2 linked regions of the Homo sapiens genome follow. The protein of the gene in region 1 interacts with the protein of each later gene in a pairwise test. Each region holds a gene or a part of one and is shown on either strand. Other genes may lie near its edges.

Evidence for each region.
Region 2: the proteins of RIPK4 (region 1) and PREPL interact in a two-hybrid assay, tested with the Homo sapiens proteins (one large-scale study listed by BioGRID).

What each region holds. Positions count from the first base shown.
Region 1 is NC_000021.9:41,753,553-41,757,052, reverse strand, and holds part of RIPK4 (receptor-interacting serine/threonine-protein kinase 4), read left to right. Parts: intron 1-236; coding exon 237-528; intron 529-3,500.
Region 2 is NC_000002.12:44,351,495-44,354,994, reverse strand, and holds part of PREPL (prolyl endopeptidase-like), read left to right. Parts: intron 1-3,500. UniProt on the Homo sapiens protein: Serine peptidase whose precise substrate specificity remains unclear. Does not cleave peptides after a arginine or lysine residue. Regulates trans-Golgi network morphology and sorting by regulating the membrane binding of the AP-1 complex.

The DNA of each region.
Region 1 (3,500 bases):
TTTCCCTCCTCCTCACTTGTGATAACCCTGTGATGCATAGGTACATTTCAGCAGCCTCAGGACTGAGACTCTGGAAAGCCCTGCATTCGTGATGTGACATTGAAGTGTGCCCCATGTGTGTGCACTTGAGGCATTTGCTCAGCCCTCTGGAGCTGGTCGTCTTCTGGCCAGGGTGCTGTTCCATGTTTGTGGCTGAGTGACCATTGCGTATTCTTCATGCCTTTGAACTTTTTCAGGGAGCGCATGGAGCTTTTGGAAGAAGCCAAGAAGATGGAGATGGCCAAGTTTCGCTACATCCTGCCTGTGTATGGCATCTGCCGCGAACCTGTCGGCCTGGTCATGGAGTACATGGAGACGGGCTCCCTGGAAAAGCTGCTGGCTTCGGAGCCATTGCCATGGGATCTCCGGTTCCGAATCATCCACGAGACGGCGGTGGGCATGAACTTCCTGCACTGCATGGCCCCGCCACTCCTGCACCTGGACCTCAAGCCCGCGAACATCCTGCTGGATGCCCACTACCACGTCAAGGTGGGGGGCCGCACGGTGCCCGAGAGAGCTGGGCAGGGAGGGCCTGTGTCTTGGGGAGCAGGGTATCAAGGGGTCAAGCCCTGAGGTCAGGACAAGGGCAGAAGAGGAGGTGGTTCTTCTTGGAGGAAAGAGCTTGAAACCGAGGCCTTTTGCAGCATGAGGACTCCAGGAGCCTAAGCTTGTCCTGGTTGGTATGAAAACCACACGCCATGTAGCTGGAGGGTAGCTTGGTGAACATGGGGGCTGTTCCCCCAAATCTTGGCATATGACTCATTCCGGAAAAAGATTACGGGTTTGTGGGTTTTGGTCTTATGAAATCAGGTTAGAATTCAGCCCGTGGGCCAGGTGTGTCCTTGCGAGACCTTAGGCTCTGCAACAAAGGGACGCATTTCCCTCAGTGTTTTCAGGAGCTCGGGGTGGTGGGAATGTGGGGGTCCTCTGCAGTGGGGTCCTCAAAGTGCTGTGGAAAGAGGCTTGTGAGGAGGGGCTCGTTGCCTCTGTCTGCCCCTGCGTAGAGTGCGGAGTGGCAGCGTGTTGCGTTAGTGCAACGCCTGGGAGATGGAGCTTGCTTTTGCTTCGCTGATAGGTTTTTGAAACACAGAAAAGTAAGAGAGATAATGTAACTGAAAACCAGTGTTGCCTCTGGGCCTTGGCAGGTGTTAGCATCATCACCTTTGCATCAGGGCTGTATTTCCTTGTATCTCCTTTGATGGCCTTCGTGGCTAGGGTTGTACTGTCGTTGACATGTGGTGGTTACACCTGGCGCGTTGTAGTTTTTCCCCACGTGGTGATGTTCACATGCTCTTGGGAGGCCCAGGGTGATAGGCTGGTCCACATGACACTGGTGTCTGCCCTGGGAGTGAGAAGGAGCCGAGAGCCATGGTCCGGATCCATGTAGTTCATGCAGGGGACAAGCAGAGGAGTCCCCTGCCTGGCTTGGCTGTGCTACTGTTCCTGGTGGCACAGCACTTCCAGGCCTCTCTGATGGCCTGACCATTAATTAGGAGAGACCTGAATTCAGGGCCCGGCCCTGCCCCTGAGCTCTTGGGTGGGACGGGAGCGGTGGCTCGTATGGCATGCGCACGGCCGCTCCCTGTGCCCAGACTCTGCGGACGAGTGCATCTCGCGTGCCTTGCTCAGCCAGGGCGGTGGTGAGGAGGTCAATTTTTCACTTCGGGCAGTAATTATAAGTTGTCTCTTAGGTAGGTGTTGCGCAGTAATAAGATTTCAGCTAGAAGATGAAGCACCGTCCTGCGAAGTGAAGTAGGAAATTGAGATAATGGAGACAAAAATCAAATGACTTGGCTTGAACGGGCTCTCTGGTGGTTTCCCGCATCTGCTTATGTTCTGGGACCCCTGGGATTCCCGTTTCCTGTGATGGGCAGGGCTGGGCCTCACATGCGGACCCCCCATTCCCGCCAACATTTACGGGCTTGTTTCTAGGTAGCACAGGCTCTGGGGCCCTAATGACTAGTAAGCTCTGCCGTCCAACGTGCACTGAATACCGGAAAGGACATGCTAGAGGCTTCACCTGCGGGAGCTGCCCTCATCCTCAGAGCAGAGGTGCAGAGTGGACGGTGGCCTCTGGTTCTCGCTGAGTCTCTGCTTAGAGTGAGTAAATTAGCAGCCAGGATCGTCCAGCTGTAAGTCACGGAGCAGAGACCTTGATTTCCACCTGGCCTGCCACTGTGCTTGACATGAAAGAAACCAAATGACCACTGCACGTAGCAGTCACTTGGGGGCAGGGTGTGTGGCCCGCAGGCTGGGCCTAGAGGCGGCCCTGTGGGAGGGGGTGGGAGTGCTCCTGGGGCTGGGCCTTCACACAGGGTGGGGCTTTTCTGCCCTCAGGAGTCGGGGCAGGCAGCAGCAGAGCCTTTAGGTGAAGGAAACAGCCCAAGAGACGCAGAGAGCTCTGGGCCTTCCTGCAGGGGCAGCAGGCAGCAGGGCTTCCCTGTCTTTCAGGACAGCTGCAGGGGGCGGATGCTGCCTGGAACTGCTTTCTCAGGGAGGCTGCTGTCGAAGGCACGCTGGGTGCTGGCCAGGAAGTGACAGGACATCTCTGTGTGGTGCCCCTGGGACATCTTAGGGCCCTGTGTACCCTGACAGGCCGCAGGAAAGATTGCTTTTGTGTGGCGTCCTTCTTAATCAGGCATGTTAGTCACCATCAAGAAGCCCAAAAACAAACCGAAAAATACCTTTACGTGACATACTTATTTTTTCTGTGAAATAGCTACTGGTGTGCGTAGAGTGCAGCAGGGAGTGTGTGTCGGGGTTCTGAGAGTCAGCGCCTTTGTTCCTGAAGACGAAGTGTGGAAGCTTTGCATGGACTGACCACTGGGCTTCTGGGCAGTCCTCAGTAGACAGTTATTCAATGCAGGAAAACTGTAATCCAGAATCCTGCAATTAGATCCTAAGTTGCCATTCCAGTGCTGCCATTCGCCTCTGAGATGGGCTCCCTCAGTGCTCAGGGCTCGATTCAAACTGGAAATATCACAGCAACTGTCTACTTCATGAAGCAGTTAAATGTAAATAGTATACAAAGTAATAGTATCAAATTAATGCTTGATATTATTCAACATTACATATACTAAATACCAATATTAAGATACTAGTTGGAATCAATTTCAACTTAAAAATGAAATAACTTGGTTTAAAATCTCAGGCTGCATTTATATGTCCAGTTAGCCCAAAACAGACGCTTTTCAAAGGGTCACACGCGGGTCACGTTCTGCTGTGTCTTTCTTTTAGAGGCAGCAAAACCCCGGCAGGCTGCTTTCTTAGTCTTGACAGCTGGACCTTGAAGTTGAAGGGCCATGTGCTTGGGGGCAGCTGTGAGCCCTCAGCTCTTGGAGATGCAGAGTCGGGTGCTGATGAGAGTGTTTGTAACTCTTGAAGCATTTGCTGGTCAGAGTGGATGCCACAGTAGCTCGCTGTTGAGGACACGGGGTGAGGGGCAGCTTGGGTGGGAAGAT
Region 2 (3,500 bases), on another chromosome or scaffold:
TAACATTCCAAAATCTCAAAATTCTAAAACGTACCTGGTTTATCTTTATGTTTCAGATGGACTTATTTCACAGTCATGTATGTAATCTTACTGATATTCAGATCTTAAGGGTGAAGAAGGCCGGGCGTGGCGCCTCACGCCTATAATCCTAGCACTTTGGGAGGCTGAGGCGGGTGGATTGCCTGAGGTCAGAAGTTCAAGACCAGCCTGACCAACATGGCAGAACCCCATTGCTACTGAAAATCCAAAAATTTTAGCCGGGCCTGGTGGCGCATGCCTGTAATCCCAGCTACTCGGGACGCTGAGGAAGGAGAATCACTTGAACCCGGGAGGTGGAGATTGCAGTGATCTGAGATCGTGCCACTGCACTCCAGCCTGGTGTGATGGGAGCGAGGCTCCATCTCAAAAAAAAAAAAGAGAGGAGGAAAGGATAAATATAACTCACTAGTAAAGTGGAGATTTCAGTAGCAGTTGGATATATGAGTCTGGAATTTGGGGAGAGTTGTTACATGTAGATAGTAGTTGAAGCCATAGGAGTCAAATCACTATATTTACCTCTCTGCTATTACTACATCATTTTAAACTTTTCCTGTCTCCCCATTATATTGGGAGGTCCTTAAAGACAAGAATTTTATAATACACATCTTGCCAGCACATAGCATAACGACTGCCACATTGTAGATAAGCAACGTGTTTATAGAATGAATTAATAGTTAAATTAATGCATTTTTTCTTTTCATATAACCATAAATTTTATTGCTAGAAAACATACCCCAGAAATCATCCCATCTGAGCTCTTTCTTTAGGTCTTTGATACTTTTTTTGTTGTTGTTGTTGTTGAGAGAGGGCCTCACTCTGTTGCTCAGGCTGGAGTGCAGAGGCACAAACATGGCTTACTGCAGCCTCAACCTCCTGGGCTCGTGCTGTCTTCCTGCCTTACCTTGCAAGTAGCTGGGCCCACAACTATGCCCAGCTAATTTTTTGATTTTTTGTGTGTGTGGAGACAGGGTCTCACTTTGTTGTGCGGGCTTGTCTCAAACTCCTAAGCTCAAGTAATCCTCCTGCCTCAGCCTCCCAGAGTGCTGGCATTACATGTGTGACCCACCATGCCCAGCCCTATGACCCATTTTGAGTTCATTTTGTTTATAGTGCAAGGGATTGGGGTACAACTTTATTATTTTGCTTGTGGATATCCATTGTCTGAGCAACATTTGTTGAAAAGAGTGTTCTTTTTCCATTGAATTGTCTTGGTGTCCTTTCTGAAAATCAACTGACCATAAATTCAATGGTTTATTCTTGACTCTCACTTTCATCTCATTTTTGTATATGTCTGTCGTTATGCCAGTACTACACATTTAATTACTATAGCTTTGTAATAAGTTTTATTTATTTATTTATTTATTTTTTGAGATGGAGTCTCGCTCTGTCGCCCAGGTTGGAGTGCAGTGGTGCCATCTCAGCTCACTGCAACCTCTGCCTCCCAGATTCAAACAATTCTCCTGCCAAGGCCCCCCGAGTAGCTGGGATTACAGGTGCCTGCCACCATGCCCAGCTAATTTTTTTTTTATTTTTAGTAGAGACAGGGTTTCACCATGTTGGCCAGGCTGGTCTCAAACTCCTGACCTCAGGGTGATCTGCCCAACTTGGCCTCCCAAAGTGCTGGGATTACAGGCATGAGCCACTGCGCCTGGCCTGTAATAAGTCTTAAAATCAGGAAGCGTGTGTATTCTTTCTAAACAAATGAAGAAACTAAAGCCACAGAGCCTAAAGTTAAGTAAGAAAACTAGTAGAGTCAGAAGTAGACCTAAGTTAGCCTCATTCACAGTACCTTTCTTTTTTAATATCTTGTAGTACAGGTAGACCATCCCTAATACAAAATCTGAAATGCTCCAAAATCCAAAACTTTTTTAAATAGAGACAGAGTCTTGCTATGTTGCCCAGGCTGGTCTGAAGCTCTTGGGCTCAAGCAATCCTCCTGTCTCAGCTTCCCAAAGTGCTGGGATTACAGGCATGAGCTGCCACTCATGGCCAGTGAGCATCTTTTCTTACACTTATTGATCCTATAGTTTTTCTTCTTGAATGCCTATTCTTGTCTTTTGACCTTCTTTTAATTGTCTGTCCTTTTCTTACTGATTCATAAGATTTCTTTACGTGTCCTTTGTCTTTTATATGTGCTGTAGATATCTTCTCCATATTTGTTCTATTATTATTTTTTTCACTTTGTGATATCTTTTGTTAAATATGTTTTTTTCATTTTATGTTTTATGCTGTCTGAATTTTATTCAACTCAGCAAATATTTGTTGAACACCTGCTATGCACCATTCTAGGCACTGGAGATATAACACTGAACAAAATAAACAAAAATCCCTGCCTTTGTGAAGCTTACCATCCTACTTGAGAAAGGAAAAGAGAAAGAATAAAGAATTACATGAACAAGGCTAGGTGCAATGGGTCATGCCTGTAATATACTTTGGGAGGCTGAGGTGGGCTCATTGCTTGAGCCCAGAAGTTCAAGAACAGCCTGGGCAACATGGCAAAACCCTGTCTCTACAAACAATGCAAAAATTAGCTGGGCATGGTGGCGCCTGTAGTCTCAGCTACTTGAGAGCTGAGATCAAGGATCAATTGCTTGAGCCCAGGAGGCAGAGGTTGCAATGAGCCGAGATCATGCCACTGCACTCCAGCTGAGGTGGACACAAGCAAGTCCTCATCTCTCAAAAAAATAAAAAGAATTACATGAATGAAATACAAAGTGGGTCAAAAGCGATAGTTATGGCGAAGAAGAAAAGAAAAAAAAGACGGGGAAGATGTGAATAGGCAGTGTGGGGATAGGGAGGGGTGTTATTTTAGTAAAATGGTTAGGAAAGGCCTAACTTAGAAGATGACATTTGAGCAATAGCTTTAAGGAGGTATTTGGGCATAGGGCCCAAGTTCTAAGAAACTGATATGGGAGCAAGCTTGATATGTTCAAGAAACATCAAGTATGGATTAACTGGAATAAGTGGGCTTGGCGTGTAGCAGTAGATTAGGTCAGCAATGTAATGGGACAAGATTCTTTAGGACTTTGTAGACCATTGTAAGAATTTTTGCTTTTCCTCTTGAGCAAGATGGGAAACCACTGGAGGGTTTTGAGTGGAGTAACATAATCTGACTTCAGACTCACACAAGCTCCTTTGTTGAAAATAGACCAGGAGGCAAGCGCAGAAGCAGAGAAAGCTTTTGGGCTTTTGCAGTAATCCAAGGGAGAAATGATGATGATACTAGCCAAGTAGTCCAGTCCAAGTGTGAGAAGTGGTCAGATTCTAAATATATGTTGAAAGTAGAATTGAGAGGATTTAGCAGACCAGTTGTTTGTGGCAAGAGAAAAAGACAAATCCAACTGTAATGTTTTTAAGCCTGAGTAGCTGGGAGGACAGATTTGTCATTTATGTAAATTGGAAAGATTGCCTGGAGAACAGGGTTTTGTTTTTTTTTTTTTTAATAGGGCGAGGGATATATG